Homo sapiens: one gene and its partners. The protein of the gene in region 1 purifies or fractionates together with the protein of each later gene. This does not show direct contact. Each region holds a gene or a part of one and is shown on either strand. Other genes may lie near its edges.

Region 1 (8,012 bases):
ATGACAACAGCTAATGGGTCTAGGGCCCTCACTAAGTGCCAGGCTGTGTTTTATTAAAGGGTAGGCGATGGCTGGACGCAGTGGCTCACGCCTGTGATCCCAGCATTTTGGGAGGCCGAGGCGGGTGGATCATGAGGTCAAGAGATCGAGACCATCCTGGCCAACATGGTGAAACCCCGTCTTTACTAAAAATACAAAAAATTAGCCGGGCGTGATGGCGTGTATCTATAGTCCCAGCTACTCGGGGTGCTGAGGCAGGAGGATCACTTGAACCTGGGAGGCGGAGATTGCAGTGAGCCGAGATCGTGCCACTGCACTCCAGCCTGGCGACAGAGCAAGACTCCATCTCAAAAGAAGAAAGAGAGAAAGAAAGAAAGAAAGAAAGTAAAGAAGGAAGGGAGGAAGGGAAGGAGGGAGGGTAGGAGGGAAGGAAGGAAGGAAGGAAGGAAGGTAGGCAGGCAGGCTGGCTACTAAAAAAAGAGTAGATGTTTACTAACTTATTAGTTCTTGCCACAACCCTGTGGGGTAGATGTTATCATCATCTCCATTTCACACAGGAGAAGTGAGGTTAGAAACCATGTCCACTGGAAGCATATGGAAACTGGGGATTGATCTAAGGCATCCTGGGTCCAGAATCCCTGCTGTTGCCCCAGACTTCATTTGCACCAAAGTGGGATTATTTAAAAAAACAACAACAACAAAAAAAAAAAACAAAGAAGAGGCCAGGTGCAATGACTCACTCATGAAGACCAAGGCAGGAGGATCCCTTGAGGCCAGGAGTTTGAGACCAGCTTTGGCAACATAGCGGGATCCCTCTACAAAAAATTTCAAGAATTAGCTGAGCATGGTGGCCTGCACCTCTGTAGTCACAGCTACTCTGGAGGCTAAGGCAGAAGAATCAATTGAGCCTAGGAGGTCGAGACTACAGTGAGCTGTGGTCATACTACTGCACTCCAGCCCGAGCAACAGAGTGAGACCCTGTCAAAAAAAGAAAGAAGAAAAGAAAGAAAGAAAGAAGGAAAGAAGGAAAGAAGGAAAGAAAGAAAGAAGAAAAAAAGAAAGAAAGAAAGAAAGAAAGAAAGAAAGAAAGAAAGAAAGAAAGAAAGAAAGAAAGAAAGAAAGAAAGATGACAGTTCATATGATTGTGCCTGGTAGTCAGGAAGACACCCATAATAGTAAACACTTCTGTCTGGACACGGTGGCTCACGCCTTTAATCCCAGCACTTTGGGAGGCTAAGGCGGGTGGATCATGAGGTCAAGAGTTCGAGACCATCCAGGCCAACATGATGAAACCCCGTCTCTACTAAAAATACAAAAATTAGCTTGGTGTGCTGGCGCATGACCGTAATCCCAGCTACTCAGGAGGCTAAGGCATGAGAATCACTTGAACCCAGGAGGTGAAGGTTGCTGTGAGCTGAGATCACACCAGCCTGGTGACAGAGCGAGACTCCATCTCCAAAAAAAAAAAAAATTAGTTAACCACTTCCTAAGGTTGTTTTGTCCAGTGTCTGAACAGGGAGGACCCATGGCAGGTTCTCAAACATCTTAGCTCTCACTATTAATATTAATGGGAATATTATTTTCACCACCACTCTTATTTTGGCTATTAAATGACAAGACAGGCTGACTGCAGTGGCTCACACCTGTCATCCGAACACTTTGGGAGGCTGAAGCAGGGGGATAGCTGGGGACCAGGAGTTCAAGACCATCCTGGACAACATAGCAAGACTCCATCTGTACAAAAAAATAAAAATAAAAAATAGGCCGGGTGCGGCCGGGCGCAGTGGCTCATGTCTGTAATCCCAGCACTTTGGGAGGCCGAGGTGGGCGGATCACGAGGTCAAGAGATTGAGACCATCCTGCCCAACATGGTGAAACCCCATCTCTACTAAAGATACAAAAAATTAGCCGGGCGTGATGGTGCGCGCCTGTAATCCCAGCTACTCAGGAGGCTGAGGAAGGAGAATCACTTGAACCTGGGAGGTGGAGGTTGCAGTGAGCCAAGATCATGCCATTGCACTCCAGCCTGGGTGACAAGGCGAGACTCTGTCTTGAAAAAAAAAAAAAATACAAAAATTAGCCAGGCATGGTGGCATGCACCTGTAGTCCCAGCTACTCGGGAGGCTGAGGCAGGAGAATTGCTTCAACCCGGGAGGTGGAGGTTGCAGTGAGCCAAGATGGAGCCACTGCACTCCAGCCTGGGTGACAGAGCAAGACTCTATTTAAAAAAAAAAAAAAAAAAAAATTAAAAATAGCCGGGCATGGAGGGGTCAGCCCGCAGCCCCAGATATTCAGGAGTTTGAGAGCAGCTTTGGCAACATAGCGGGATCCCTCTACAAAAAAATGTCAAGAATTAGCCAGGCATGGTGGCCTGCACCTGTGTAGTCACAGCTACTCCGGAGACTGAGGCAGGAGGATCGCTTGAGCCCAGGAATTCCAGGCTGCAGTGAGCTATGATCGCACCACTGCACTCAAGCCTGGGAGACAGCAAGAGACCCTGTCTCCAAAATAAAAAAAGACAAGAGGAATAAAAGGACTTCAGGAAGAGGCAAGGCAGCCACAGATGGGGGGAGTTAGAGGCCCCTGTTCCAGTTGCCTTCCCCAGGTATTAACACTGTGGATGCCGACAGTGATGGAGATAATTTCAATTTGCTGAGTCCCTAATATTTCCAGAAAGGCCACTATGCTAAGTAGTTTACACGCAGCGAGTTGTATTAATTCTCATTGGGTGGGGACCTCTGTTGCTCCCATTTTTACATACAGAGAAACTGAGGCCCTAGGAGGCGAACCCCTTGGCCTCAGGCACAAGGCGAGTGGATGCTGGAGGTGGGATTCCCAGGGATTGCAGGGGGAGGGGGTGTTCCCAGACCTCTTCCTGGCCCGCGCGGAGGGGTCGCCCCTGAATCCCTGGGAGCGAGACCTCACCTGTCCGTCTCCCAACTCCTCATGCCCAGCCTCACCTTGCCCTTAACGTCCAGAATGAAGACAGCCGAGGCGGACATGGTGGCGGCCGAAGGACTTAGGAGTCGGGGAGGGAGCGCCGGGAGGCGATGGCGGCGCCGCTTCCTTCTTCCTGCGGAAGCGCCTGCGCCCAGGTGAGAGCCCAGGTGTGTGCGTCTTAAAGGGGAGGCGGCCAGGTGAGCAGCGCTGTCGGCCAACTTGAAGATGGCTGCGGGGCCGGGAGAGGTACTGCGACTTCAGATGGGTCTGCTGCCCCCCTTCACTTTCCCTAGCCACCCAGGAGTAATGACGGGTGGAGACCCCAAACCAATCAACCATCCTTCCATCCATTCATTCATCCTTCCTTTCATTCATCTATCCATCCATTCGTCCATCCATCCATTCATTCTTGCATTCATTAATCCATCCACGCATCCACTCATTTAGCCATTCATTAATCCATCTTCCATCGATTCATTGATCCATCCTTCCATTCGTCATCCATTTCTTCATCCATTTTTGCATTCATTTATTTGTTCGTCTATCCATTATCCATTCATCCATCCATTTATTCATCCATTCATTCATCCCTTCTTGCATTCATTCATTTATTCATCTTTCCATTCATCCATCCATTCATCCATTCTAACATTCATCAATTTATTCATCTATCCATCCATCCATCCATCCGTTCATCCATTCTTGCATCATTAATTTATTCATCTATCCATTCATCAATCCATCCATCCATCCATTCTTGCATTCATTAATTTATTCATCTATCCATTCATCCACCCATCTATCCATTCATTCATCCTCTCATTGATTCATCCATCCATTCACCTTCTTTCTCCTCTGTCTCACCCACACACGTCAGCCCCCATACAGCAGGGACTTTGTCTTGTTCATGTTTATGTCCCTAGTGCTCAGCACTGGGTGCTCAAAATTTGCCCAATTCATTCATTCACTCATTCATATAATAATTTTCACTGGTGAATTTTACTGACTGAATTTGAAATATTCATTCACTCAGTAACAGGAACTGTGGATATAATTCCGAGCAGGACAAATGTACTTGCTTTTATTATTCTTACAAATTTACTCTTATTCATTTCAAATAAAAAATTTATTTTTTTTTGTTTTTTGAAATGGAGTCTCACTCTGTTGCCCATGCTGGAGTGCAGTGGAATGATTTTGGCTCACTGCAACCTCCACCTCCCAGGTTCAAGCAATCCTCCTGCCTCAGCACCCCTAGTAGCTGGGATTACAGGCAAGCGCCACCATGCCCAGCTAATTTTTTTTTTTTTTTAGACTCCAGGCTGGAGTGCAGTGGCATGATCTCTACTCACTACAACCTCCGCTTCCCGGGTTCAAGGGATTCTGCTGCCTCAGCCTCCCAAGTAGCTGGGATTACAGGTATGCGCCATCACGCCTGGCTAATTTTGTATTTTTAATAGAGATGGGGTTTCACCATGTTGGCCAGGCTGGTCTCGAACTCCCGACCTCAGGTGATCCACCCGCCTCAGCGTCCCAAAGGGCTGAGATTACAGGCGTGAGCCACCGCACCCAGCCAAAAAACTTTTTTTGTAGAGACAGGGTCTCACTCTGTACCCTAGACTGGACTGCAGTGATGCAATCATGGCTCACTACAGCCTCAACTTCCTGGGCTCAAGCCATCCTCCTGCCTCAGCCTCCCTAGTAACTGGAACTACAGGCACAAACCGCCACACCCAGCTAATTTTTTTTGAGACAGAATTTTGCTCTAGTTTACCAGGCTAGAGTGCAGTGATGTGATCTCGGCTCGCTGAAACCTATGCCTCCTAGGTTCAAGCAATTCTCCTGCCTCAGCCTCCCGAGTAGCTGAGATTACAGGCATGCGCCACCATGCCCGGCTACTTTTTTTGTATTTTTAGTAGAGACAGGGTTTCTCCATGTTGGTCAGGCTGGTCTTGAACTCACGACCTCAGGTGATCCACCCGCCTTGGCCTCCCAAATTGCTAGGATGACAGATGTGAGCCACTGCGCCTGGCCACAACTAGCTAATTTTTTTTTTTTTTTTTAATTTGGAGTCTCGTCCTGTTGCCCAGGCTGGAGTGCAATGGCACAATCTCGGCTCACTGCAACCTCTGCCTCCCAGGCTCAAGCGATTCTGCTGCCTCAGCCTCCCAAGTAACTGGGATTACAGGCGTGCACCACCAAGCCCAGCTAATTTTTTGTATCTTTAGTAGAGATGGGGTTTCACCATGTTGGCCAGGCTGGTCTCGAACTCCTGACCTCGTGATCCATCTGCCTTGGCCTCCCAAAATGCTGGGATTACAGGCGTGAGCCACTGCGCCTGGCCCACACCTAGCTGATTTTTTTTTTTTTTTTTGAGACAGAGTCTGGCTTTGTCGCCCAGGATGGAGTGCAGTGGCGCAATCTCTGCTCACTGCAACCTCTGCCTCCCAGCTTCAAGCAATTCTCTGCCTCAGACTCCCAAGTAGCTGGGATTACAGGCGCCTGCCACCACGCCCGGCTAATTTTTTTTTTGTATTTTTAGTAGAGACGGGGGTTTCACCATCTTGGCCAGGCTGGTCTTGAACTCCTGACCTCGTGATCCACCCGCCTCAGCCTCCCAAAATGCTGGGATGACAGGTGTGAGCCACCGCGCCAGGCCAGGCCCACCTAGCTAATTTTTTTTTTTCTTTGAGATGGAGTCTCGCTCTGTTACCCAGGCTGGAGTGCAATGGCGCGATCTCAACTCACTGCAAGCTCCGCCTCCCAGGTTCACACCATTCTCCTGCCTCAGCCTCCCGAGTGGCTGGGACTACAGGCGCCTGCCAACACGCCTGGCTAACTTTTTGTACTTTTAGTAAAGACAGGGTTTCACCATGTTAGCCAGGATGGTCTGGATCTCCTGACCTCGTGATCCGCCCGCTTCGGCCTCCCAAAGTGCTGGGACTACAGGTGTAAGCCACCGCACCCGGCCCGACCTAGCTAATTTTTACATTTTTTGTAGAGATGGTGTATCGGTATGTTGCCCAGGCTGGTCTCAAACTCCTGGGCTCAAGCGATCCTCCCCCCTTGGCCCTCCAAAGTACTGGGATTACAGGCGTAGTCTGAGCCACTGTGCCTGGTTTGTGCAGATTAAATGAGTTATTCTGTGCAACGTGGTGTTGGAAGGGAACTTGGATGTAGCTGACTGTCAACCATGTCGCTGAGAAGGAGGAGGATGAAGATGATGATCTGGATGATGATGTAGCAGTTGAGAGCACAGATGCTGGGTTTGATTTTTGATACCACCACACACTGGCTATAAGGCATGGGCTGGTGAATGCACCTGCTGTGCCTCAGTCTCCTCTTATGTTAAATGGGTATAACAGCCATGGTGCCCTCTCCTGCAGTTGCATAGCCAAATACCTGGCATGGCCCCTGGCTCCATGCATGTTTCGTGCACACCAGCTGCTGCAGACCCAGATTCCACCCCTGGACTTTCCTTTTTTTTTTCTTTTGAAATGGAGTCTCAGTCTGTCGCCAGGCTGGAGTGCAGTGGTGCGATCTCAGCTCACTGCAACCTCTGTCTCCTGGGTTCAAGCGATTCTCCTGCCTCAGCCTCCCAAGTAGCTGGGACTACAGGTGCACTCCACCATGCCCAGCTAATTTTTGTATTTTTATTAGAGATGGGGTTTCACCATGTTGACCAGGATGCTGTCGAACTCTTGACCTCGTGATCCGCCCACCTCAGCCTCCCAAAGTGCGGTAGTTTTGAGGACAGGGCAGAAGGAAAGGGAAAGTAAACCTCAGCCTTGCTTAGAACCACCTTGCTTGGCTGAGGGAGGGAGATGTCCTGCAGGGCCTGCAGGGAACAAGACTCAGCCTACCCAGACCTCACTTGTCCTTTCCCCAAACCCTGCCCAGCCCTTTATCAGCCCCTGTAGGTGGGGACTTAGAGAACAGCAGCTATCAGGATCATCCACTTGCCTCTCCACCTGAAATTAACATCAACATTGACAGCAGCACTGCACTTTAATTAAAACATTATCATCTGGGCCAGGAGCAATGTTTCATGCCTGTATCCCAGCACTTTGGGAGGCCAAGGTGGACAGAGCACCTGAGGCCAGGAGTTTGAGACCAGCCTGGCCAACATGGCGAAACCCTGTCTCCACTAAAAATACAAAAATTAGCCGGGCGTGGTGACGCATGCCTGTAATTCCAGCTACTTGGGAGGCTGAGGCAGAAGAATCACTTGAACTGGGGAGGCGGAGGTTATAGTGAGCCGAGATGGCACCACTGCACTCCAGCCTGGGTGACAGAGTGAGACTCCGTCTCAAGAAAATAAATAAATAGAATGAAAAATAAAAAGTTATCATCTGGCACAAGTCTCCTTCGTGCCATCTTATAAAGGTAGAAGCAGGGACACAGAGAAGTGAAGGCACCTGCCCAAGCCCACGGCCCCAGAGCCAGGAGGCAGTTGACCCAGAATTCGAATCTGAGTCCCGGGATTTAAGAATCTGGTCCCAGCCTGCTTCCGCCTGCTTTGCTATATTGCTGGATGCAAATATTACTATTAGTAACACTAACTCTGGCTTAAATGGTGCTCACCATAAGTGAGGGTGGCCCTAAATGTCGCCCATGCAGGAATCCTCAAGACAGCCCCTTGAATTACAGAAGCCTATTTTTTTTTTTTATTTATTTGAGACAAGGACTTGCTTTGTCGCCCAGGCTGCGGTGCAGTGGTGCAAACACGGCTCACTGCAGCCTCAACCTTCTGAACTCAAGAGATCCTCTCACCTAGGCCTCTCCAGTAGCTGGGACTACAGGTGAGCAACACCACTCCCAGCTAATTTTTAAATTTTTTTTTTTTTTTTTTTTGAGACAGAGTCTTGCTCTGTCGCCCAGGCTGGAGTGCAGTGGCGCAATCTCGGCTCACTGCAACTTCCGCCTCACAGGTTCACACCCTTCTCCTGCCTCAGCCTCCGGAGTAGCTGGGACTACAGGCATCCGCCATCAAGCCCGGCTAATTTTTTTGTATTTTTAGTAGAGACGGGGTTTCACCGTGTTAGCCAAGATGGTCTCGATCTCCTGACCTCGTG
Region 2 (6,809 bases), on another chromosome or scaffold:
AGCCAGGTGTGGTAGCTCATGCCTATAATCCCAGCACTGTGGGAGGCCAAGGCGGGCGGATCACCTGAAGTCAGGAGTTCAAGACTAGCCTGGTCAACAGGTTGGAACCCCATCTCCACTACAAATACAAAAATTAGCTGGGTTTGGTGGTGGGCGCCTGTAATCCCAGCGACTCGAGAGGCTGAGGCAGGAGAATTGCTTGAGCCCGGGAGGCAGAGGTTGTAGTGAGCCGAGATTGCTGCCACTCCACTCCAGCCTGGGGGACAGAGCAAGACCCCGGCTCACCAAAAACAAAACAACAACAACAACAAAAACCTTCTACTTGTCCAGGCATCCCTGGTCCCTCCAACCCAAAGGAACTTCAGTTTTAGCTCTGGACTCCCATAGCCTCCCAGTATGTCCCCTCTCACAGCATCAGTCACACTTGTGACTTGCTCCTCTGTCACCCCCTCTCCCTGCAAACTGTAGGCTGAGCAAGGGCAGGGCCTTAGCCTCACCCATCTGACTATCCAGCACCCAGCCCAGGGCCTGGCTGAAACCAGAGGCTTGGAAAATGCTTTCTGCAGGACTCAGACACCTGGCTCCCTTGCACTGGGCGTGGGGGTGGGCCCGTGAGGTTTTCCTGCCTCGGCACAGTTCTTTTCTCTGGATTACCCTTTCCTTCTCTCTCAGCCTACGCAACTCTGTTCTCATTCGGCAAGACAGCGCAAATGCCATCTTCCCCAGGAAGTCCTTCCTGAGCCGCCCGGTGCTGTGACCTCTCCCTCCTTGGAAATCTTAAAGCTCTGACTCCTTCAACCACTGACTTGCCACTTGCACATAAGCTCTCCAGCTTGATACCTTTAGGTTTGTTGGTTTGTTTTGTAGGATAATTTTTCTCTTCTGATGTTACATTCCCAATGAAATTTTGTTTTCCACTGAGGCGGGTGGCATTTACCAACATCTATCATCAGAGAAGGGCAGTTCCTCCAGAAAGTTGCATATCACACATGCTGCATGGCACATACATACACATAAAATTATTCCAGGCACACAGAGGAAAGATCGTGTGAGGACATAGCAAGAGGGCGGCCATCTACAAGCCAAGGAGAGAGGCCTCAGAGGAAAGCAGCCATGCCAACACCTTGATCTTAGACTTCCAGTCCCCAGCACTGTGAGAAAATAAATTCCATTGTTGAAGCCAAAAGAAAAAAAAATTCCATTTGTTCCCTGACTACTTTTTTATTTTTATTTTTTTTGAGACAGAGTCTCACTCCGTCGCCCAGGCTGGAGTGCAGTGGTGCAATCTTGGCTCACTGCAAGCTCCACCTCCCGGGTTCACGCCATTCTCCTGCCTCAGCCTCCTGAGTAGCTGGGACTACAGGCACCCACCACCATGTCCGGCTAATTTTTTGTATTTTTTAGTAGAGACGGGGTTTCACTGTGTTAGCCAGGATGGCCTCCCTGACTACTTTTAAAAAGGATTTAAAAATGGAATAAGGTGGCCGGGCACGGTGGCTCACACCTGTAATCCCAGCACTTTGGGAGGCTGAGGCGGGCGGATCACAAGGTCAGGAGAGCCAGACCATCCTGGCTAACAACGGTGAAACCCCGTCTCTACTAAAAATACAAAAAAAATTAGCCGGGCGTGGTGGCGGGCGCCTGTAGTCCCAGCTACTCGGGAAGCTGAGGCAGGAGAATGACGTGAACCCGGGAGGCGGAGCTTGCAGTGAGCCGAGATCGAGCCACTGAACTCCAGCCTGGGTGATGGAGCGAGGCTCCGTCTAAAATAAATAAATAAATAAATAAATAAATAAAAATGGAATAAGGTTTGTAATTTAGATAACGGTATTTTACCAACACCACCAATTTCCTGCTTTTGCTATTATACTGCAGATATATAAAATGTCACCATTGTGGGAAGCTGGGTGAAGGGTATATGGGACTCAATTTTGGTACTAATTTTGCAATTTCCTGTAAGTCTATAATTATTTAAAAATAACTTTTAAAGGCTTTGAGGCTGCTTAAACATCTAAAATTATATTAAATATAAAAACCAGTAATATCTATATTAGATAGGACGTAGAGACTTAGCAATAAGTGCACTTAGCAGTAAGTGCAAGCTTATTTATTAACAACTTTTTGATAATATTAAAAAAGATGGATAACAACCTCAGGGGATTGTTTTTGAGATTAGCAGTACCATCCACGTAATGGAATACTATGCAGATACTGGAAAGTGCCAAGTAGAAATGTATTTACTATTTTGGGAAACTTTTACCAATATTTTGGTGAGTTAAAAAATACCAACAGTGGCTCACGCCTATAATCCCATCACTTTGGGAAGCTGAGGTGGGCAGATCACTTGAGGTCAGGAGTTCAAGACCAGCCTGGTCAACATGGTGAAACCCCCGCCTCTACTAAAAATACAAAAATTAGCTGGGCACGGTGGTGCATGCTTGTAATCCCAATTACTTGGGAGGCCCAGGCAGGAGAATCGCTTGAACCTGGGAGGCAGAGGTTGCAGTGAGCCAAAATCACGACACTGCACTCCAGTCCGGGCAACAGAGCGAGACCCTGTCTCAAAACAAACAAACAAAAAAAAACAAATGATCTATCAAGTTTGGAAGAATATTCACCAAAATATTAAAAGTGATTGTCTTAGGTCAGTGGGATTGCAGATGGTTTTTTTCTTTTTTCTTTTTTTTTTTTTTTGAGACGGAGTCTTGCTCTGTCGCCCAGGCTGGAGTGCAGTGGTGTGATGTCGGCTCACTGCAAGCTCTGCCTCCCGGGTTCACGCCATTCTCCTGCCTCAGCCTCCTGAGTAGCTGGGACTACAGGCGCCTGCCACCACACCCGGCTAATATTTTGTGTTTTTAGTAGAGACGGGGTTTCACCATGTTAACCAGGATGGTCTCGATCTCCTGGCCTTGTGATCCGCCCGCCTCGGCCTCCCAAAGTGCTGGGATTACAGGTGTGAGCCACCATGCCCGGCCATTTTTTTTCTTTTTTTGAGACAGGGTCTGGATCTGTCGCCCAGGCTGGAGTGCAGTGCTGCAATTATAGCTCACTGTAACCTCAACCTCCTGGGCTCAAGCTATTCTCCTGCCTCAGGCTCCCGAGTAGCTGGGACTACAGGTATGAGCCACTGTGTCTGGCTCAAGGTCACTCATCTTAAGAATGGAGGGGTCCAAACTAGAGCTGTAAACCTAGTTTGGACAGAGAGAGACCCCTCTGTAATCCCAGCACTTTGGGAAGCCGAGGCGGGAGGATCTCTCGGGTCCATGATTTCGAGACCAGCCTGAGCAATAAAGTGAGACTCTCTCTACAAAAAATAAATAAGTAAATAATAAGTAATTAGCCGGGCGTAGTGCTGCGCACCTGTGGTCCCAGCTGCTTGGGAGGCTGAGGTGAGAGGATCACCTGAGCCTGGGAGGCGGAGGGTGCAGTGAGCCCAGATCTTCGAGCCACTGCACTCTAGCTTGAGCAACAGAGCAAGACCCTATTTCAAACAAACAAACAAAAAATGAGTGACCTTGAGCAAAACCCTGCCCCTCTTAGAACCTCAGATTTGCCGTCTTTACACAGAAGATGGACTTCAAACTCCCTACGACCTTGCCCGGCCCCCTCACGCTGAATTGGCTAGCGGGATGGTTTCCCAAGGGCTCTGCGGGAGACTGCAGCATAGCAGCGCCGCGGCTGCCGAGGGGTTAATACCGTTGGGCTCTTCCCCTTTTCTTGCCCCGCCCCACGGGCACCACCCCCGCCAGGGTTGTACCCTTGACCCCGCCTTCAGGCCTTGCGTCCACCGGAAGTACCCGCGCGCGGGCAGCTCACTTCCGCCCGGCAGGTGACAGCCGCGGGGCTCCGAGCCGCCGGCAGCCCGGACGCACCGGGAGAGCGAGAGGTGGAGGCCGCGGACATTTTGGTGCCAAGCCGAACCGAGCCGGGGCGCCGGGAGCTATTGGGACCTGCGGGTGAGGAAGCGGGGACCCGGGCGAGCCAGGAGAAGAAGTGGGGCGAGGGGTCAGGGGTCCTAGGTGAGGGGTTTGCGGGGTCAGAGGTCATGAAGAGGACGCGGCGCTGCAGGGGCGCGAGCGACGTCCCCAGCCAGAGGAGGAGGAAGGGCTGAGGGTTCGTTCATTCATTCGCGCCCACTTGGCCGCCGGCCTGTTCCTCGGCCGCCCCATACCCGCAGCACCTCCTGGGGCTTCCGCCCGGAGAGACAGGACTTAGGCCCCGAGGAATTCCCCACTGGCCTGAGGGAAAACTCTTCGGGCTCTGATTTCCTCTTTCGGACTCACCTCCATGGCCATCCTGAGGCCTCCTCGTTGTTCAGGGCGTTATCTCTTTGCCAAGGTTGAAAAAGAAGAAAGAAAAAAAAACTAGAAAACGGTCCCGTGCCGCCCGCCTCCGGCTAGGCACTGGCTTGGTCTTGTTTGTTGGAGCCTCTAAGACAAGTTAACTGAATGGAGACACCGGTGATAATGCTGCAAAATAACGAGGGAGATGCTTGCTAGTGGCTATCGAGTCCCTTCTGTGTACCGGGCACTGTGCTAAGCACTTTCCTTACAATGACACATTTAAACTTCACAGCAACCTTTGTGGGGATTAAATATCCCTATTTTATCGATGAGGACCCTGAGGCACAGAGAGGTTAAATCCCACATGTAAGGTCATTCGGGTAGTAGAGGCAAGGCCAGGTTTTCTGCCAGGCTGTCAGAGACCTGCAAAGTACAGAGACAAAGGAAAGACTGGAGTTAAGGTTGGGGTGTAGGGGATATTTAAGACTTTTAGCCAGACATGGTGGCTCACGCCTGTAATCCCAGCACTTTGGGAAGCTGAGGCGGGTGGATCGTGAGGTCAGGAGTTCAAGACCAGCCTGACCAACATGGTGAAACCCTGTCTCCAATAAAAATACAAAAATTAGCCAGACATGGTGGCGTACGCCTGTAATCCCAGCTACTTGGGAGGCTGAGGCAGGAGAATCGCTTGAACCCAGGAGGTGGAGGTTGCAGTGAGCCGAGATCGTGCGACTGCACTCCAGCCTGGGCCACGGAGTGAGACTCCGTCTCAAAAAAAAAAAAAAAAAAAAGATTTTTAGCTGCCGTTGTATTTATTTGGATTTATGTCACGATGTAGCCTTATTGCTTTTTGTCTGATCTTCATAAGGGGCATTCGACTTACTTTCTTTAGGATAAAACAATCCTACAGGCTGTTGCTATTAGTGATACCTTTCAGGGCAAGAGTCTAAGATTTTCCTGACTTTAGGGAACAGTGAGACACAAAACAGGCTATCCGTGAAAACTATTTGAAGATTGTCGAGAACTTCTCTTCAGAGTGGTTGAGCTGCATTCGTTTTGGTCTAAAAAGAGAGGAACCACATGACCTCTAGGGGATCTTTTGGTCCTAGGTTCTGGAAGAAGGTACCCAGAGGAAGAATCTTTGCCTTTCTGAGAAATATGCAGGCCCCATGGCTTCTTGCCAGAGCAGAGCACGTCTTACTTGGGAGGTGGTGAGACGGTTTGGTGGCTGGAGGACTAGGCTGTATGAATCTAAGCCTCATTCCATTGCGGATATTCACTTGCTTCAATTCTGCCTCAGTTTCCCTGACATCAACATGAGAAAGACCTGCCGCCTTCCTGTCTGCTCCTAGGGGTATGAACCTGTGAATGAACCCGTGAGGGCTTCCACATGGCTTCTGAAGAAAGCTGTATATAAATATTACTGTAATACCTTTTTTTTTTAAGCTGTGTGATCTATTCTCCTAGTTCCATTGAATTCACAGAAACTTAATATTGTCACCTTATATTCCCATCCTTCCAAGGGAGGATTTGAGATGAAGCAACTTGTCACAGAGGGTAGGAACATGAGCAGAGCTCAGAGCTTCTGGTTTTCTGTCCTGAGTTGAGCCCACCAGTCTCCTCTGACCTCTTAGAAACTGTCATGAGGAGCATCTTCAGTAGGTCTCAAAGAGTCAGATCCCTCAGAGATTGTGTGAAGATCATCTGTTGAGTGTAGGTCAGTGGAGGCTTCACCCTGAGCTGCTTCAAGAGCCCAGAGGTATGATGGAAAGATCACCAGACTCCCAGTCAGTCAGCCCTGGGTTCAACCCCAGCTCAGCAGCTTCCTGGCAGTGTGACCTGACCTGGACCGTTGACATAGGCTGGCCCTCCTTTACCTCAGTTCTAAAATAATACTGGCCACCCTTTCTGACTCCTCTACCCCTGGTTTGTGTGAGGGTTAGATGGGAAAATTTGTGCAGGGCCTGTGATTTTTGGGTGCTTTGACTCTAGGCAGACTGATGCCTGCTGGGGGCCTGTGTCTGAGGAAGGCTGCCAACCTTGGCTTCTGGAGCGTTACTTCCTTCTGCAAACAGAGACCTTAATGTACGCAGGACTTTTTCCACCCTTCTTGTTTCACTTCCTAAAAGTAGTTCAGAACAAGTTCAATTTGTTGGTCCTTCTGGCTTTGAGCTTGGGCTTGCATCTTTTTCTAGTCATCCTCTGAAACTCTTGCATGTCTTAACTACTTCCCAGGAACTTCCCGTGTCTGGCACCAAAGCCTGACATGCTGACAGTAAGCAAACATGGCTTGGGTTTTGCACTTCGCTGTGTTTCTGAAGGTTGAGGTGACATCTGTGCCTTGCAGACATTTCTTTTTCTCAGCAGGTCTTTTTGCCTAAGAGACATCGTTGATATTATCACAGCCCAGAAGTGATTTTTCTGTTCTTTATGTCTTCACATGGAGAGGAACAAATACTCCTGAGAAAAAATGTCAACAGAGCAGTTGGGGAATCCTTAAAGAAAATTCTGCTTGAAAATTCATCA
Region 3 (7,337 bases), on another chromosome or scaffold:
GCCCAGGTCAGGGGGAGGAAACCAAACGGGAGCTGCCCTGGCCTGCCAGGAAGGGAAGCAGCTGGCAGAGTGTGGCGAAGGGTGACGACTCCAGAGGAGAGGAGGATGTGATGTAGAGGGGACAGGGGCTAGGGGGCTGGAGCATCTGAGCAGGGACTAACTTGAAGTGGGGGAAGTTCTGCTAAATCCCTGTCTCTGGACCCGACAGGGCAGCAGACGCCCTCCTAAAGGCAGTGGCAGCCAGCAGTGTCGCTGAGAAGGCCGTGGAGGCAGCTCGAATGGCCAAACTGATAGCCCAGGACCTGCAGCCCATGCTAGAGGCCCCAGGTGAGGCATGGACAGCTGGGGGGAGGGCAGTGAGGCCCCTAGGGAGCTAGAGAGGCTCAGGTGTGGGGAAACAGATGAGAAGCCCTGCAAGGGAAGTGGGGATGGGAAAAAACAAGGAATGAGGGTGCAAGGAACACAGGGTGGGGGCCAGACCTGGTAGTCTGGGGAGTGGGACTTGGGAATGTATGCAGTAGGATAATGGGGGGTTTGGGGTCTGGCGGTGAGAGGCTATGAGCCTGGGAATTCCAAAGTCCTGGGAAGTGCCCAGTCAGGAATAAAGCTGCAGCCACTCCAGCCCAAGGCCAGTTAGGCCCCTCTGATTCTCAGCTATCCCTACCCAGGCCGCAGACCCAGGCAGGACTCAGAAGGTTCCGACACGGAGCCCCTGGATGAGGACAGCCCTGGGGTATATGAGAACGGACTGACCCCCTCAGAGGGATCCCCTGAACTGCCCAGCAGTCCTGCCTCCTCCCGCCAACCCTGGCGACCCCCTGCCTGCCGGAGCCCACTGCCTCCTGGAGGGGACCAGGGTCCCTTCTCCAGCCCCAAAGCTTGGCCTGAGGAGTGGGGGGGGGCAGGCGCACAGGCAGAGGAACTAGCTGGCTATGAGGCTGAGGATGAGGCTGGGATGCAAGGGCCAGGGCCCAGAGACGGTTCCCCACTCCTCGGAGGCTGCAGCGACAGTTCAGGAAGTCTTCGAGAGGAGGAGGGGGAGGATGAAGAGCCCCTGCCCCCGCTGAGGGCCCCAGCAGGCACGGAGCCTGAGCCCATCGCCATGCTGGTCCTGAGGGGCTCGTCCTCGAGGGGTCCTGATGCTGGGTGCCTGACAGAAGAGCTCGGGGAGCCCGCTGCAACCGAGAGGCCTGCCCAGCCGGTGAGATCCTCTGTCCCTGCTGTGTGCCCTCTTCTCCCAAAGCCTTGCCTCCCACCCTTTCCAGAACTGTCTGATCACCGGGGGGGCTTTTTATCTCACTCGGCTTCCTCTGCCTGGCCAGTCTTGGACCACATCCCACCTCAAAAAAATAGAGGGCGTTCGAGCTGGAAGGAACCTTACACACCTGCAAGCCCAACTCCCTCATTTGACAGATGGGGGAACTGAGGCCCAGAGCACTTAAAGTAACTTGCCCAGGCCGGGCGCGGTGGCTCACGCCTGTAATCCCAACACTTTGGGAGGCCGAAGTGGGCGGATCACGAGGTCAGGAGATCGAGACCATCCTGGCTAATACAGTGAAACCCCGTCTCTACTAAAAATACAAAAAAAATTTAGCCGGGCGTGGTGGCGGGCGCCTGTAGTCCCAGCTACTTGGGAGGCTGAGGCAGGAGAATGGCGTGAACCCGGGAGGCGGAGCCTGCAGTGAGCTGAGATCGCGCCACTGCACTCTAGCCTGGGTGACAGAGCGAGACTCTGTCTCAAAAAAAAAAAAAAAAAAAAAAGTAACTTGCCCAGGGTTGTAAACTAATAATTAATGGGAGAGCCAGAACATTTTTCCCCCGTTCTCCTTCCATATCATTTCCAGCTCTCAGTTTCCTACTCCACCCCCACCCCCACCTCCGCACTTTCTCTCTTTGGTGCCCAGAAATAAAAAAGGAAAAGATTGTTCCCTCCCTACCCTGACTCTCCCTCCCTCTCCCGGGAAGAAGTTGAAATAGAGAAGAAGGCAGAAAACCGGGAGAGGCGGAGTTTGCCCAGAACCCTCTACTCTGATTGGGCTCTAGGCCTTCTGTTTCCTAGCAACCACATCCTCACCCCTTCATCCCTCTGCCTTACTGCAGTACTGGCTGCTGCTGCCAATGTCTGCTACTAAGGCCAGGCACCTCCTGCCTGGGACACATGATATGCTGATGGGAGGGGACTAGAGGGAGGAGGTGGAAGGGCTGTCCCTGCATTGAAGGTGTCAGAGGAAAGGTGGGGCCCTGCCTGGGAGAAGAGGGGGTTTTGCAATCCAAAACAAATGTTGGCGATCCCCCTGCTCCAGGCTGTGCAGGGAGGTGCCTGAGACCCTTCAGCTCTGCCACCTCAGTCAGGGCAGGAAGGTGGGCCCTGTCCTCGGGGACTGAGTCTGCTTCCCCCTCTGTCTCTCTAGGGAGCTGCCAACCCCCTGGTGGTGGGAGCCGTGGCCCTCCTGGACCTCAGCCTGGCATTCCTGTTCTCCCAGCTCCTCACCTGAGGCTACTTCCTGGCCTGGTTCTGGCTTTGGTTGCGTGCCTCTTCACCCCTTTGACCTGCCTTTTTTCTCTTCTCCTCTTCCTGGCTGTGTTTTCTCCTATCTTTCTTTCTCTTCTTCCTTTCTTTTCTGTGCTCCTTTGTTTTTTTCTCTCGCTTTTTCTTTCCCTGTCTTCTTTCAGATTATCTCATTTCTTCTGGATCTGTCTCTGTATTCCTCACTCCCTTCCCCATCCCAACCCCTTCTTTCTCTAGATTGTTTACATATGAAGGGCTTTTCTCTCTCAGAGTTGCTGTCTTCTCTGAGACACACAAATCTAAGTCAGACCATTGCTCCACGCCCTCCCACCTTTTCTTTAGACCTCAACTTCGCTGCGGGTGGGGGTTTGGTGTCCTAAGGAGACTCCTGGAAGCTGAATGGAGAGGAGGAAGAAAATGAAGAAGGAGTGATTGAATGTCGGGCAAGGCACTGGCTGAGCTGCTGTGGCTCCCTAGCCTAAGGGGCCTGCTGTCCCTCTGAGGCCTAGTGAAAAAGCTGCAGGAGGTGCATCCTCCACCTCTAATCTTGGAGGCTATTATCTTACCTCCAAGCACTGAGCTGGGTTACTGCCCAATTCCATCCTTCCCTGAAGGAGAGAAGGGAAGTGAAAAGTAGAGTAACTCCCCAGCATTTCCCTCTTTTTCTCCTCATCGGCCAGCCCCTCCTCCAGCCCCCTCTGGTGGCATGCCATGCCAAGAGCAACGTGTAAAGGAACAGAGAATATCCAATGCAGTCAAGTCCACCCTGCCCAGACTTTGCCACTGACTTCTCCCACCCTTCTGTCTCCCCCATAATAGTTTATTTGGTTGGTCTGGACTCACTTGTGGCCTTTGATTAAATTCCTAAGGGGCCTGAAGAAGACATTTCTACTGCAGAGGGTTAGAGGCACTTGAGCAAGGCCCCCACATCCCAACTCTGGGAGTTGTGGTGGGAGGAGGCACTTCTGGGGGATAGGACCAGACAAGATAACAGGAGCTCACATGGAAGCAGAAGCTGTGACAAGTTTAGTAGTCCCAAAATGGGTTATATCCCTTCCCCCTTTACATCAGAATCTTGTGAAATGGGAAAACAACAGAAGGAGGGGATCAAAGATAGCTGATCTCACATGCTTCCCAGGCAGGGCAGAGGTGGGAGTCAAACCCGGGTGACAGGTGGGTGGAGAGCCCTGTTTGAGGTTGTGGCTGATCCCTCTCTGGTATTAGTTTTTCCCCTGGGAGCAGGAAGCCCTAGGAAGAGGGGACTGCAGGGTCCCCAGGGGATCTTTCCTCCCTCCCCTGCATGAGGCAGAGGCAAGCTGCCTGCCAACCCCCTCCCTCAAGGAATGGCCTTGCCCAGGAATGCCCACCACACATACCCTCTTCTTTTTTTCTAGTCAAACTCTTGTTTATTCCTTGGCTTGCCTCCCTCCTTCCTCCCCTCTCAACCTTTACTTCTGATTTCTATTTCATGGAATTTGGGATTGAAGTTAAACTACAACAGTGCCGCCAACACCAAGTCTTGCAGGAAAAAAATACAAAGAAATTTAACAAAAAAAATATATTAATAAAAAAGTTCAAAAAAGGGGGGGGATTGTCATCTCCTTTGGGGTGCGATGGCTTCAAATCCAAACTGAGGCTCTCCGGGTGGTAAGGATGTGCGAGGAGGCCTCTTGAAGAACTCCAGGCCTATCATGCTGTCTCTCCGCTAAAGCCTGAGGCCCGAGGTCAGAGGATTCAGGAAGGCTCTGCAGTCGGCCCAGGAGGGCGGGGTCCCGTGGTGGAGGCGGGGAGAGGGAAGGACCGCACGGAGCACCAACCCCTGCTCGGCCCCGTACCAGGAAGCGCTGGGGGGCAGAGGAGCGGAGTTGAGGCAGAAGCCAGGTGAGGCTGGAGTCCTGGGGTAGGCAGGCTGTCGCTGCCGCTGCCGCTGCCTGAGATGGAAATCGGGGGAGGAAGCTCGCGGAAGAAACAGCGGAGGGTCGTGGAAAAAAAAGCAATGGCTGAGCTAGGGATGGGGTACCAGGTAGGGGGAGGAAACGGTAGAGAGAAATAGGTGGGGCTCCCGCGCATGCTCAATAGGAAGGGGCGCCGGTGGGGTGCGGACGCATGCGTAGTGGGCTTCTCGGGCGGTGGGGTGGGCGCGGAATTTGGAGACCCACTTCGGGAAAGGTAAAATGCGGGCGCAATTTTAGGGTACCTGTGGGACCCGGGCTCTTAGGGTCTTGACACAGGACGGGCCTGGGCCGAAAGCCCAGGCACGCCCGACCAGAGAGTGTTTCTCCACTCCCGGACTCTGCCAGTCAGGATGGTGGTGCCTTCGCTGAAGCTTCAGGACCTCATCGAAGAGATTCGCGGGGCCAAGACTCAGGCCCAGGAGCGGGAGGTGATCCAAAAGGAGTGTGCCCACATCCGGGCCTCCTTCCGCGACGGGGACCCAGTGCACAGGCACCGGCAGCTGGCCAAACTGCTCTACGTCCACATGTTGGGCTACCCCGCCCACTTTGGACAGGTACTGGCCAGGAATACCTCCCTCCTGAGCTTGATGAAGGCTAGTGGGGCAGAGTCCCAGACTCTCTCACCTGTTTATGCCCTGGTTTTTTAAATTCTACAATTTCAGAGTCTTCACAGCCTGCACTGCAAACCTCTTTCCCCATTGCTACCCCTACTGGTCATCAGCTGGCCTGAACCCTTCATTCTCTGGCCAGCCTCCTTTAGGGCAGGCATCTCCTCCTCTCCGCTCCCATCCTCCTCAACTCCTAGTTCCTCCTACCCACTAACGCCTGAATTTCCTAAGCTTCTCCTCTTGTTGAAGGGAGAGTGATGAGATATGATGCCCCACAGGTTAATCTGGTTTTAAAGAGGAAGATGGAACAGGGATGTGAGTGTCTATGGTTTCACCCCTGCCTCTTCCTGGTCTGCCCCCTTCACTATAGATGGAGTGCCTGAAACTGATCGCCTCCTCCAGATTCACAGACAAGAGGGTGGGCTACCTGGGGGCCATGCTTCTATTGGATGAGAGGCACGATGCCCACCTGCTCATTACCAACAGCATCAAGAAGTGAGAGGGTTCTGGCAATCACTTGGAATCAGGGAGATGGGAGAGTAGGGACCTTGGAAATCCCAGGGGACTGCCTGTTGTGGGTATTGAAAAGGACTGATTTTCTCAGAGGTTTGACTGACCGTCCTCCCAAACCCTGCAGTGACCTGAGCCAGGGGATTCAGCCAGTACAAGGCCTGGCCTTGTGCACTTTGAGCACCATGGGCTCTGCTGAGATGTGCCGAGACCTGGCCCCAGAGGTGGAGAAACTGCTCCTGCAGCCCAGTCCCTACGTGCGCAAGAAGGTGAGATGGCGGGACTCCTGGCACGTGCTCCTGCACACTGCCTGCTGCGTGCTATATAGTAGTAGATGCAGGGGTCCATCTCCTCTGACCCCTGTCTGAGGCCCCTGACCTCTGCAGGCTATTCTGACTGCAGTGCACATGATCCGGAAGGTCCCTGAACTCTCCAGTGTCTTCCTCCCACCCTGTGCCCAACTGCTTCATGAGCGTCACCATGGTAAGGCTGTGGGGCCCCCCATCCTTTGCTTCAGGTCTATGGACAGAAGAATTGAAAATCGGATGGGAACCCCAGCTCACAGGAGAAGGGTAGTGCACACACACAGGCACACACGCAATAGACTCTCTTGCCCCTGGCCCCCACCATTCACTTCCCCGACGCTGACCCCAGGCATCCTGCTGGGCACCATCACGCTGATCACGGAGCTCTGCGAACGAAGCCCTGCAGCCCTCAGGCACTTCCGAAAGGTGGGCTGGTGAAGGGGCAGGCCCTGGGCCTGGAAGACAGGGTCAGTGGGGAAGGAATGGGGCTTTAGCTGGAGAGGATTAGAACGAATGCCCAAAGTTGTGCCCTCCCTCCAGGTGGTACCCCAGCTGGTACACATCCTCCGGACTCTGGTGACAATGGGATACTCCACAGAACACAGCATATCTGGAGTCAGCGACCCCTTCCTGCAGGTGGGGTGACCTTTCACTGCTGTATCCCTGGATCAGAGAGGGCATAGCAGTAAGACCATGACCAGTGGTTTCCTCCCAGAGAACACTGGTTCTCTCAGTGTCCTGGGCAGCAGAGTAGCAGGCACAGGATTGCTCGGGTCATCCCAGGACCTGTGAGGGGAGAGGGAATGCCTAAAAGTCAGGAAAATACAGTTTGTTAACAATTTTTTTTTTAAGCCTGTCCTAAACTCCCCTGGCCTCACACACCTCTGTTCCCCTCCTAGGACCAAGGGACCTGTGGAGGTGAGGAGGTGGGGGAAGGCTCTAGGGAGCGAGCCAGACCCTCACATGTTGGAGTTTTCTCCTCAGCCCCACGACTCCTTATCCTATGAACCCCTCCAACTTTCCATTTTCAACCCAACCTCAGGTCCAGATACTTCGTCTGCTTCGGATCCTGGGCCGGAACCACGAGGAGAGCAGTGAGACCATGAATGACTTGCTGGCCCAGGTGGGGCCTGGGAGGGCACTGGTTAGCTGTGTTGCTTGGAGACCCCATCAGCCCTGGGTGCCCCTCACATGACTCGTCACTGTGCAGTGGCCGTGTAATTGCCTCTCCATCTCCTCTAGACAGTGAACTCCATGAAGAAGGGACACAGTCTGTCTTAGTGCTATTGCCCCAGTGCCCAGGCTGGCCCTGGCACATAGTAGAGCCTCAGGGAACTTTGTTGGATGGTTGAAGGATGGACAGATAACATGTTGGAGTCCTTCAAGAATCCTGAGGATTACCTGGGCTTGTTGGCATGTGCCTGTAGTCCCAGCCACTCAGGAGGCTGAG

The links.
Region 2: the proteins of AP1M2 (region 1) and AP1B1 purify together in Homo sapiens (affinity purification with mass spectrometry; 5 studies listed by BioGRID and IntAct, with this or other methods). This does not show direct contact.
Region 3: the proteins of AP1M2 (region 1) and AP1G2 purify together in Homo sapiens (affinity purification with mass spectrometry; 4 studies listed by BioGRID and IntAct, with this or other methods). This does not show direct contact.

Annotation. Positions count from the first base shown.
Region 1 is NC_000019.10:10,584,230-10,592,241, forward strand, and holds the start of AP1M2 (AP-1 complex subunit mu-2), read right to left. Parts: upstream 3,084-8,012; 5' UTR 3,003-3,083; coding exon 2,961-3,002; exon of another isoform or gene 2,926-2,960; intron 1-2,925. UniProt on the Homo sapiens protein: Subunit of clathrin-associated adaptor protein complex 1 that plays a role in protein sorting in the trans-Golgi network (TGN) and endosomes.
Region 2 is NC_000022.11:29,385,571-29,392,379, reverse strand, and holds the start of AP1B1 (AP-1 complex subunit beta-1), read left to right. Parts: upstream 1-3,809; 5' UTR 3,810-3,956; intron 3,957-4,283; exon of another isoform or gene 4,284-4,471; intron 4,472-6,809. UniProt on the Homo sapiens protein: Subunit of clathrin-associated adaptor protein complex 1 that plays a role in protein sorting in the late-Golgi/trans-Golgi network (TGN) and/or endosomes.
Region 3 is NC_000014.9:23,564,792-23,572,128, reverse strand, and holds the start of AP1G2 (AP-1 complex subunit gamma-like 2), read left to right. Parts: upstream 1-4,337; 5' UTR 4,338-4,390; exon of another isoform or gene 4,391-4,577; coding exon of another isoform or gene 4,578-4,678; exon of another isoform or gene 4,679-4,809; 5' UTR 4,810-4,813; coding exon of another isoform or gene 4,814-4,814; coding exon 4,815-5,018; exon of another isoform or gene 5,019-5,442; coding exon 5,443-5,567; coding exon of another isoform or gene 5,568-5,709; coding exon 5,710-5,851; exon of another isoform or gene 5,852-5,968; coding exon 5,969-6,065; coding exon of another isoform or gene 6,066-6,236; coding exon 6,237-6,313; exon of another isoform or gene 6,314-6,427; coding exon 6,428-6,523; exon of another isoform or gene 6,524-6,673; intron 6,674-6,929; coding exon 6,930-7,010; intron 7,011-7,288; exon of another isoform or gene 7,289-7,337. Other genes in the region: JPH4 (junctophilin-4), read left to right, coding at 209-327, 669-1,201, 2,412-2,495.